Regions from separate parts of the Homo sapiens genome. Here region 1 is linked to region 2. The links come from fine-mapping of genetic effects on gene expression. Tissue or cell type: blood mononuclear cells. Region 2 holds a variant in brackets; the other region holds the start of a gene. All regions are shown on one strand. Distances are between the middles of the regions. Region 1 holds the start of NRN1 (neuritin 1). Region 2 has its middle 24 kb from the start of NRN1.

Region 1 (5,356 bases), 24 kb before region 2:
TAATTAAAGAACTACGAAGAATCAACCCTGCATGGAGCCTGGACTGCAGAACGACCTGTAATTTAAAAGATGAGAATTTTTCAAAAAATAAAATGTCATGTGCATCTATCTACCCAGAAAATCATTTATGTAGAGTACCAACTCTGTTTGCCTCTCTCTTCTTCACTTTTAAAAAGACTCAGGCCTATGAGGGAGGTTGGGACGCCTGGGGAGGAAAATGAAGAGAGGAAAAAGTCAGCGGGGGTTCCCTCCCGGGGTAGGGCGGTGAGGCGCAGCCACGTCCCAAGGGCAAGAACCGGATCGGCCCGGGGCGCGGCGCGGGCGGCTGTGCGCACGCGCGTGGGTTCACCCGCTTCATTGAGGCCCTCAGCCCTGCCTACTCCACATCCCCAGCGCCCCACGCTCAGAGTTACAGGGGAGGGGTTGGAGAGGATCCCAGAAAATGATGCTGTGAAGATCCCAGGTGGATAAGCAGGAGGAAGGCAAGGACGTTGAGGGCAAAAAACCTTAAGCCACTCCCAAGCCTGGGCTCTGCACGAGTCTGAGCGAGGTTGGGGGCCCGCAGCTGGTGGCCTGGTCCGGGAAAGCTGGGCCGGCCCCACGCGGAACCCCGAGCGAGGGGCGGAGCCGTGGGCCGGGCCGCGTGGCAACCCCCCTGAGGCCCCGCCCCTCGGAAAGCCTCCCGCCCTGCCATTGGAAGACGTCGGGGGAGGGTCCGAGAAACGCCCCCCTCTCGCCACCAGCCCCCGCCCCACCCCTTGTCCGCCCACGTTTTCGGTTCTTCCCGGAGCCTCCGAGCTCGGGGAAAGGAAACACCCGGGGCCGCCACCGTGCCCCTGGACACCGGAAGGCGAGCCCCCAACCGCCCCGCCCGCAGGCCGGTGACATAACCAGGGGCGGGGAGACATGACTCCGCCCCCAGGGCCAGGAAGGCTGCATGGGAGTCTGAGGCTCCCGCGGGACGTGAGTTAGGGGCCGCACATTGCAGACACCTCACGTCACCAAGTGCTGCAGTAGGACCCCCGCAGCTTCCCCTCGGCCCCCTACCCTCCACAGCCTGTCCTACCCCCGTTATTTTGCACCTTTCTCCCCCTTTGTCTATGCATCTCCAAATATCTGAGTATGGGGACGGCAAGATTGGCCCTAGAGGGCAAGCTGCCTGTAGAAGCAAATTCAACGCTTCTCCTTAATCCGTGTGCATTTCTACAGTTTGACAGCTTGACGTCCTCTAGTGTAGTTTGGCAAAATTTGGGGGGTCGTTTTCATTTTTTTCTCTCCACAGGCTTAAGGATTAAAGCTGGCCAATGCCTTCTTTAGCATTTTATTAAAGACGCTACAATTTAGACTTTTTTTTTTTCTGTTTGGTGCAGAAGAAAGGAAGAAAACCAGAGCTTAAAGGCGTTTAGAAAGGAAATAGCCCTGTTAGTTTTTCGGTTTTGACTCAAGCTGTCGTCGATAGCAGCTTGCACCTAGCACAAAGCCAGCTGCAGAAGTATTTTGTTGCAGGGTAGGCTACACCTACACAGGGTCTGTGCCTGAGCATCAAAAGACAGTGCAGGTGTGTGTGGGTCCGGGTGTGCGTGTGCGTACGTGATGTACGTGTGTGCGTGTGGGTACGTGTGTGTGTAGCCCAACAAATAAGCCCAAGAGGCGCATCAAGATTAGAAAGAAGTCCGCACACCAGCGCTTGCCTTGGAAATTTCCTAAAGCGCTGAGAGTTGGTTGGTAAATCACTAGTATCCGAAAACTGTCTTATCAGAGGCTCCTTCCCCGGTGCCCTACTCGCCCCCTAAAACAGGTGTCGCTGTGTCCCTTGAAGCGGCCTTTGGCCCGCTGGGGCATCGCAGGTGGGTAAAATTCAGAGGACATTCGGTGTTTATTTCTGGGGCCCCACGTGTGCAAACCAAACCCCCGGGGCCTGGGCGTGTGCGCGCGCTCGCGTGCCTTGTGTGCGGGCGGGCATGGGGGCGCTCGGCGCGGCTGGCGGGCGTGCGCGCGCGCGTTTGTGTGTGTGTGTGTGTGTGTGTGTGTGTGTGCTCGTGCGGGGGGCCGGGCTGCGTGCTCACGCGCTCCAGGCTGCGCCCAGAGCTCAGCTGCTGGGTTGGAGAAAAAGAGGGTAGGCAAGCGCAGGGGGCGGGCGGCCGAGGAGCGCTTTCGAATTAATCGAGCTAGCTTAGCTGTTTTTCCCTCTCCCGCTCCTTTAAACCCCCCTGCATCGTAGAGAGCGGGCTGGATTCTCTGTGGTGCTGATGGAGGAGGGGGAGCAGGTTGAAACAATCGAGTGGGCGCGCCAGGACTCCCCAGCTCCTGGCGGGGAAGGGAGGGGGAGCCCCTGTTCTGCGCAGGGAGGCGGCGGGGCTGGGGGGCCCCCGGAACGAGGAAGAGGCAGGGGTGACCGCTAGAATAGGAAAGTGCTCACCCCCGGGAGGCAAAATTTCGTTCAGATCGCACATTAATTGGAGATATCTGATTAATTCCAGCTTCTGATGACTATAAATGGCGATTCTCTACCAAGGTGTCTATATTAAAAAAAAAATCATTCCGTGTCATCCCCCACGTCAGGCCTGCTCGTGGGCGTGAGGCTGTACTTCCTCCGCCCCCTTCTAATGGAGTGAACCATTCCCAGCTCTCCCCCCCCCCTCAGCCTCTCTCTCTCTCTCTCTTTCTCTCTCTCTCTCTCTTTCTGTCTCTTCCTCGCTCCCTCTCTTTCTCTCCTCCCTCTGCCTTCCCAGTGCATAAAGTCTCTGTCGCTCCCGGAACTTGTTGGCAATGCCTATTTTTTGGCTTTCCCCCGCGTTCTCTAAACTAACTATTTAAAGGTCTGCGGTCGCAAATGGTTTGACTAAACGTAGGATGGGACTTAAGTTGAACGGCAGATATATTTCACTGATCCTCGCGGTGCAAATAGGTAAGTGGCCGCTCAGCCCGGCTGGAGGCTGGAGGCGGGAGGCAGCCTGCCCCGGCCCGAGGCGCGGAGGGGGACTAGCGGGTCCGCGGCCGCCCCAGGGTGCGGAGAAGCCGGCAATCCCCCGAGGGTGGGGGCATCAGTTCCTGGGGACTAGCGCGTCCCAGATCGGTTTTTCCTAAAGCTATAGATTCCAAATGTTCGCCAGGAAATGTGTGCGGCCGGACATTTTCTGGACACGGTTTTTTTCCCCCTTTTTCCTGAGCACACATCCATTTTTGTTTCCCTTTCTGGGTTTATACCAGGTTTGGTGCGCTCTGGGGCAATGTACTGGCCCCTGCGATACTGCAAGATATGATTTTGAAGAGTCGAAATGTGAATGCAGGAATAAAATGGCTAGGCAGCCAGGACTGGAAAGTTTATGTGCTGAAAGCAAAGATATTCCAGGGCTCAGACTGCTGCATTTAGAACTTTGTCATTCTCCCGCCCCTCCTCCCCCCTATATCCTAGCTGCAGCGTTTGCACGGGCACCGCAGACCCGGCTGGTGGGCAAATCGAGAGTGATAGGGAACTTCAGACCACATATTTTAACATGCTTACCATTGAAGAGGATGAATTCAGCCAAATTTACGTAGATATACTTTTCTAGATGCATTTGCCTGCTACTTTACACATTGGTGTCTGCATTTTATATATAGGAAAGGGTTAAGAAGTGTTTGGAATATGTCATGTCGGGTGTTTGTTATTTTTGTTTGTTTGGGATTGGTTATGGAAGGAATTATTTAGTCCCCATTTTATGTTAAGGAATGTTGAGTTGTAGTTACGCTGTCAGGGGTCTTTTTAAAGTTCACATTTTTACCATCCAGAATGAAGAAAAGATATAGAAGAGGGCACTAGAAAACCCCCTTCTCCGACACTGGGTCAGAACATTAATTAACGTGGCCTAAAAGTGAAAGTGAAGCAGGTTATTAATAGAATGGACAACACGGGGGAAAAAAGAAACTCCTGAAACGGAATTGTTACCTCCTATCAGTTCAGGCTGTGGCATTCTTTGCAGACAAATCCTTGCAGTATTGGGGGAGGGGGTGCTTTAGGTAATTGGTTTGGGGCAAGAAAGGAGAATGCATAATATGTTTTTTCCATAAGAAATGTGAAGGAAACAAGGTTTGGAGTTCTCTAGACCTTAAAATGGATTCTTTGCAGTGGGGTTTTATGCAACTGACATGATTTTGAGATTTTATAATGCAGAAACATTATAAAGATTTTAGAGTGTGTGAGTGCAGGATATTGGTGTTTTCCTTTAGTTCCAAAAAATGACAATGCTTTAAATCTGGTTGTTTTGAATCTTTGACATTAGTGAAAAGAGCTGCTGTAAATAATATTTCTAATGGCAGCAAATTCCTTAAATGTTGGAAATAAGTGAATGTGGCATTTTGCAATAAACCTTTGAATTTTTAGAGAGCAGGAGAGAGAGTTGTTTTTGAGATAGAAATTTTAATCGGACAAGATTTGGGACTCTGTTTTCCCGGTAGGAAATAACCTTACTTTGAGAGGTTTGGAGGGAAAAAAAAGACGGTGGTCGTGCCTGAGGGACGCGTTTTGAACACATTAACCTCGGTCCAAAAATGACTATTTGTTGACTGTGGAATTGAAATTGAACGTATTTGTTCCCTAATGTCTGCCCTTTCCTGCAACAGAACCTCGGTCTTTATTAATTCACGGCTGGGAGCTGTCCCAAATCATTGACATTTGGCAAGAAAAGTGGGGGTTGGGAGGGGCGGGGAGGTAGAAGAGTGTGGTGAACACGAAAGAAGACGCAGCAGGAGGAAGTTCGGAATGAATGAGAGGTCGAACGAATGAATGAACGGATGGAAACCGCACAAGAAGGGGACGGCAGAGAGGACAGGGAAGGAGCCAGGGTCACCCGCTAGAGTCTCGCCTAAGCGGGGTTCAGGAAGGACAGCGAGGGACCCACGGGCTGCGACCTGCTGGGACGCGTGCGCCTGCAAAATCCGTCCCGCGCGCAGCCTCCCGGCCTCCCAGAGAAGGCTAGAGTCCAAGGAGTCACAGTTTTAAAAGACAGAAATGTTCACGACTTATTTTACACAGCACACACTCACACATGCGCGGTGTGCAGGGTCTTCTCCAGCAGCGCCTGGGAAGATAACGTGACAAGAGCGCTCCCGCCCCCGGCGAGCCCCAATTCCCCTTAAAAAATGTCAATGCATTTTAGGGGCTTCTTTCGCCACTGAGTTTTGGGGGTGTAGGCAAGGGGTGGGGAGAGACGTGGACGGGGAGATTGGACTTTATTTTATTTCGTTTCTTCTCTGCAAAGCTGTATTTGTGACATGCGTTATAGAGGAAGATGTGTGGAGTGTATTTCCATTTTGAACGAGCTCTATCAGAACAAAGATTCGTTTATTCTTAAGATTTTACGTCAGTGTTCGATTT
Region 2 (5,373 bases):
TTGACAACTTCATTTTTTTCGTTTTTGGGGGATTTATCTTGTTTTTTAAACAGCAGGTGATTTGCACCATTTTGAAATAATCAGTGCCTTTCTCATCATAGCTTGAGAGAGACTAGGTTAAAGAACTAGAGAGAGGAGCCCAGAGGGTATGGAATGCATCATGCAGTAGCACCAGACTCTTCTATCAATTACCACGTTTTCTGAAGGTGGTGTTTCATTCTTGGAAGTTTCCAAGTTGGGCCTGCCTGTTAGGTTTTAAAAGGAGCAGAAGGATAATAGTGGTGCAAACGGCTTTACAAATATTTTTGATGGCAGATCTGCAATATCTAGGTCTCACTGAGTCAAATACCAGAAGCACTGATGCTTCTTGCCCACCCTTTCCAGTGGAGGGAGGAAGGGCCCTGCTCCACTTCGACCAGAGCAGTCAGCAGCCTCTTCAGGACGTTGCTGGGTGCTGGGTTGCATTGTACAAGGCTACCCAAAGTGGGTCCAATTCCTGTCCTCTTGGAGGGGCATCTGAAGCAGAGAACATTGACATGGGAACATAAAGAATGACATAGCTGTAATTATGTAAGCTTAATATAAGACACTGGTTTTCATGTAGTTTATGAAAATAATGTTCATTGTTTTATAGTCATCCCAACTACAGACTTGCATAATAAACCAATCAGCATTCCCTTTGCTATATTTTCCCTTGTTCATAGCCACAGGAGAAAAATTGGGATCCCCTAAGTAAAAATAAAAAAGACCTATTATTTTGATGACCATGGTCTCTGCGTGGTTGTGGATGAAGGGGTGAAGAAAAAGAAATTATTACACAATAGCCTTTCTCAAAATGAATGGCTTGTTTTAAACAATGTGTTTTTCTTGGCAAGTTCAGAGCTACTACAAAACAACCATCACTGCTGAAACCTTGCAGAACCAGCAGGAGCGAGTTATCTTCTCTTGCTCAAGGGACACGCCAACTGTGAACTCTTCCCTCCTCACCTCCTGGCAGGGAGATGGGTAATTCCAAAGCTCATATATACCCCAAAGTAGCCTTTTTAGGTTTTGTCCCTCTCCCTTTGGGTCTTTTATAACACAGCTGTCTACATGAAGAGAAGAAAGTCAGCACCAAGCTGATGGACTCTAAGTGATCACAGATACAAAGAGACAGTGGTTTCTGAGTAGGTGCAATGTTATGAAACAGGGTGAAAACTATCAAGCACAGGTGGGTGTCTGCTACTGAGAGGGACTGCAAAGAGCCGAGACAGCCCATCAGGGTAAGGATCATTTGCTCTTTCTATAATGTGTCTCTCCCTACTTGATCCAAGGCCTGCCTTTTTCTCTTACCCCACTGTTTACCTGCTGTTTCTCTGCCTTGCATGCCCCACGCTCATTTAGCCTTCATGCCTTTGAACTCATTATTTCCTCTGCCTCTCCCCAGAGTCTTTGTGTGGAAGGCTCCTTCCTGTCATTTTGTTTCAACCTCAATGCCACCTCTTCGGAGATACCTTCTCTGACCTTTCATTGTAAAGTGATAGCCACCTTCTCCCGGAAATCCTCCCAGCAAACAGGCACTATCACATTGCCTGATTTTGTTTCATTTACAGCATTTGACACTTGCACAACTAAAAAAAAATTGCTTTATAACATTGCTTCATACTCTAAGTTTCGATTCCCTGGGCAAAGCTGGGCCCTAGGCCTTGGGCAGACAGTCTTCTGTGCAGTTTTCTGTCTCCTAAAGGTCTTGAGTGGTCACCTCCAGCCTCTCCCCTGCTCCCCTCTGCCTTTGCATCACTACAGTTCCACATCCAGATTTTATCTTCACCACTCAGCTCACATCTTGGTCTCTTTCTTTTGAAGGTGGAGTCTTGCTCTGTGGCCCAGGCTGGAGTGCAGTGGCTCGATCTCAGCTCACCACAACCTCCGCCTCCTGGGTTCAAGCGATTCTCCTGCCTCAGCCTCCCAAGCAGCTGGGATTACAGGCATGTGCCACTATGCCCAGCTAATTTTGTATTTTTAGTAGAGAGGGGGTTTCTCCATGTTGATCAGGCTGGTCTCAAACTCCCAGCTTCAGGTGATCCACCCCCCTCAACTTTCCAAAATGCTGGAATTGCTGGTGTGAGCCACCGTGCTCAGCCAACATCTTGGTCTCTTTTGCTCTTAACAGTAAGCAGGCCTCGATATAGGACCAAGAAGCAAGTGCTGGGCACCTCCAGAGGATCCCATGTGGCTGCCCTCAATCATCCAGAAGAGCAGAAAGTAAGCTGATACAAACCACGTTCTTCATGGCCTGCGATGGGGCACATGAACCCATGACTGCATGAGTAAATGTCGCCGCAGGGCTCTGTGTGGAGTGTGACTGGGGGGGTGTGGATCCTTAGCAAAATGAATCAAGAGGCAAACTTTGCCTGTGATGGCAACACCACTCAGGTCCCCCACTTCTCCTGTCTTTGGGGTTGACTTGCTCCAGTTGGAAAGCAGCTTCCCTGAAGCTGCTTTTCCTGCCCTTTCTCCCCCAGGAAGCTGACGGGAGGAGGAAAATGAAGTATCTGATGCAGGGCTAAGGTTAGACAGAAAACATAAGAACAAGGAGGAAAAGAAGCCCTCTGAGACTCTTGGGTGAGGACATTGAGGGACAGAATATATATTTCTAGGGTCCCTAGTTGGCATTC[G/A]GAACATTTTTCCCCATACACCAGTGTTTCTTAACCAGAGGTAATTGTGTTCCACAGGAGACATTTCGTAATGCCTGGAGACAGTTTTGCTTGTTACATCTGAGAAGGGGGTGCCACTGGCATCCCTGAGTAGAGGCCAGGCATGTTGCCGCGCATCCTACAATGCACAGGACAGCCCTTGCCACAAATAATTGTCTGTCCCAAAATGTCAGTAGTGCCAAGGTTGAGAAACTATATCATAGAACAATGATGTATTTGGTAATTTTGCTTAATAACTCAACCATAGTGGCTTAAATAGGTTTTGAAGATTTCCTGTATTTATTCATTTATTTATTTTGACAGGGTTCCCCTCTGTCACCCAGGCTAGGATGCAGTGGCACAACACAGCTCATTGCAGCCTTGAACTTCCAGGCTCAAGTGATCCTCCCACCTCAGCCTCCTGAGTAGCTGGGACTACAGGTATGCACCACCACACCTGACTGATTTTTAAAATTTTTATAGAGATGAGTTCTCGCTATGTTGCCCAGGCTGGTCTCAAACTCTTGTGCTCAAGCAATCCTCCCGCCTGGGCCTCCCAAAGTGCTAGGATTACAGGCATGAGCCACTAAGCCCGGCCAAGCTTGACTTTAATATCTCGCTACATGTCTCTACTAGAGAGTATCTTTTAAGCTTCACTTGGTCAAATAACAGTAATTACATGGCTCACACATAGCAGGTACATACATCACTTTGTTCATTTCCTTCACAGCACTAATCATAAAGGGGAACAACCTTTTAAATTTGCTTAATTAATAGCTTTCTGCTCCAACTAGGATACAACCTCCTAGAATATTGCCTGATCTAGAGTAGACACTCAATAAACATTTGCTGAATGAATGAATTCAGACAGTTAGCTACTGCCTGTTTCTTCTTATAGGCAGAAGCCATCTCTCGTGTATGTGTCTATATCTATAGCAGCTAGCGCAGATTTTTATATATACAGAAAACTCAACAACTGATCTCTGAAACCATGAATCAAGGCGTGTGAATGAATAAATGAGTTAATTAATATATAAATGAACAGGCAAACAGTACTAATATTCCTATGTCCACTGTGAAAAAATTAGTAAGCATGCATGCTACTACAGAGGATATTTCAGAATGCATGGTGAGTTTAAGGGCCTTGTTCTACGCTCCAGCTTCCTCTCTGTAGAACTTTCTCCCCGGGAGTCAGGTGAAGAGTACAGATTGAGTGCTAGAGACAGTGGTTTTCAGCAGAACTCTGAACCTAAGCTAAGGAAGTGATGACTCCTCTCCCTTCCTAACTATTTTCTAAGAATGTTTTGGCCCTCTGCCATCAAAGGATGAATGCTACAAGTAGTGTAAGTTAGTAATATGGCGAGTGTGATGATTCAAATGGCTCAAAGGAGGCAAAAAAAAGTCTTTGTTGCACAGTTCTCTTTCCTATTCTTTTCTATAAATAGCATGTTGATTTTTAAGAGCTGCCAGATTTTATAAACTTCTTTTCCAGAGTGATTTATTAGTGTCAAGCATTACTATCATCCTGTAGTTCTAAACTCCTCTCCTGTGGGCAGTAATTTAGCCCTAGTTTTTTCTCTGTGATAAACCTTTGCATGATTCGTGAGTCTCTAATTAGGGATCATAGTTTCCTTGCAGGTCTCTGCAAAGAAACAGCCAACAATCTCAGGTTAAGAGACTCAACACAAGAGAGAAACCAATTTTGCAAAGTGTCCCAATAATGTCTCTCATAGAACTTTTTCTCCCTGAGCCAGGATCCAAAATAGTGTCATGCATTGCACGTAGCTGTCATGCCTCTTTAGTCTCCTTTAATCTCGAACAGCTGATGGGGGCATATTTGCAGCGAGTATCCATTAAAAAATACTTACACTCTCCAGATACATCAGCTTGGTTAATTGGAAAGCTCTTTAATAATTGTTTTAGTACATAAAATTAAGAGTTTCCACAAGAATAATTAATCATACAGTATTTTATAATAAGAAATATTTATATATCAACTGACTACGGAATTTCAACTTGCAAAGCACATAAATGGATTTTTCACCCTGAGTTACATCTAAAATGCTTACCTATATTTGAAAGTGATGGAAAGCTGGTGAGTAAATATTCCCCTATTCTGTTCCTTGGGTGGACAATTCTGAGACACATTCTACACATTTTCTAAGAAGGTTCTGGCAGCATTGAGATGCATGTGCTCACAAAGGTGTCAGTCTCAGTCTGTACGGGCTGCTATGACAAACATGCCACAGCCTGGGTGGCCAGCATAGTCAGGTTCTGGTGAAGGCTCACTTTCCTAATTCTAAGACAATGTTCTTGTTGTGTCCTCACATGGCAGAAGGGGAAGAAGTGAGAGAGATATTTGGGGTCTCTTTTATAAGGGCACTAATCATTTTCATGAGAGCTCCACTCTCATGACCTAATCACCTTGCAAAGAACCCACCTCCTAAGACCATCACCTTAGGGGTCAGGATTTCAACATACACATTTGGGGGATCACAAACATCCAGTCCATGACAGTGACCAAATTAAGAGCTCACCCTTGCAAGGATCCAAGAAGGAAGACAAAAAAAAAAAATCAGTTAAAAGAAAAATATGATAGGAAAGTTGAAAGACATTGAAAATTGAAAGACATTGAAAATTGAAAAAGATTCACTCATGGAAACTCCAGAAGGAGAGAACAGAGAAAATAGGGGAAGTA

What was found.
Region 1: NRN1 starts here. The variant in region 2 is fine-mapped to the expression of NRN1 in blood mononuclear cells (TOPMed, PIP above 0.99).

Annotation. Positions count from the first base shown.
Region 1 is chr6:6,004,247-6,009,602 of GRCh38, reverse strand. NRN1 (neuritin 1) reads left to right here and starts at 2,678. Exons shown (of 3, transcript NM_016588.3): 1 at 2,678-2,908. The coding sequence starts at 2,854. RefSeq lists a silencer at 628-747 and an enhancer at 5,214-5,356.
Region 2 is chr6:5,980,415-5,985,787 of GRCh38, reverse strand. No RefSeq gene overlaps it. Among named protein-coding and RNA genes, the nearest start is that of NRN1, 24 kb to the left of the region's middle. The variant G/A (reference allele first, on the strand shown) is at 2,658.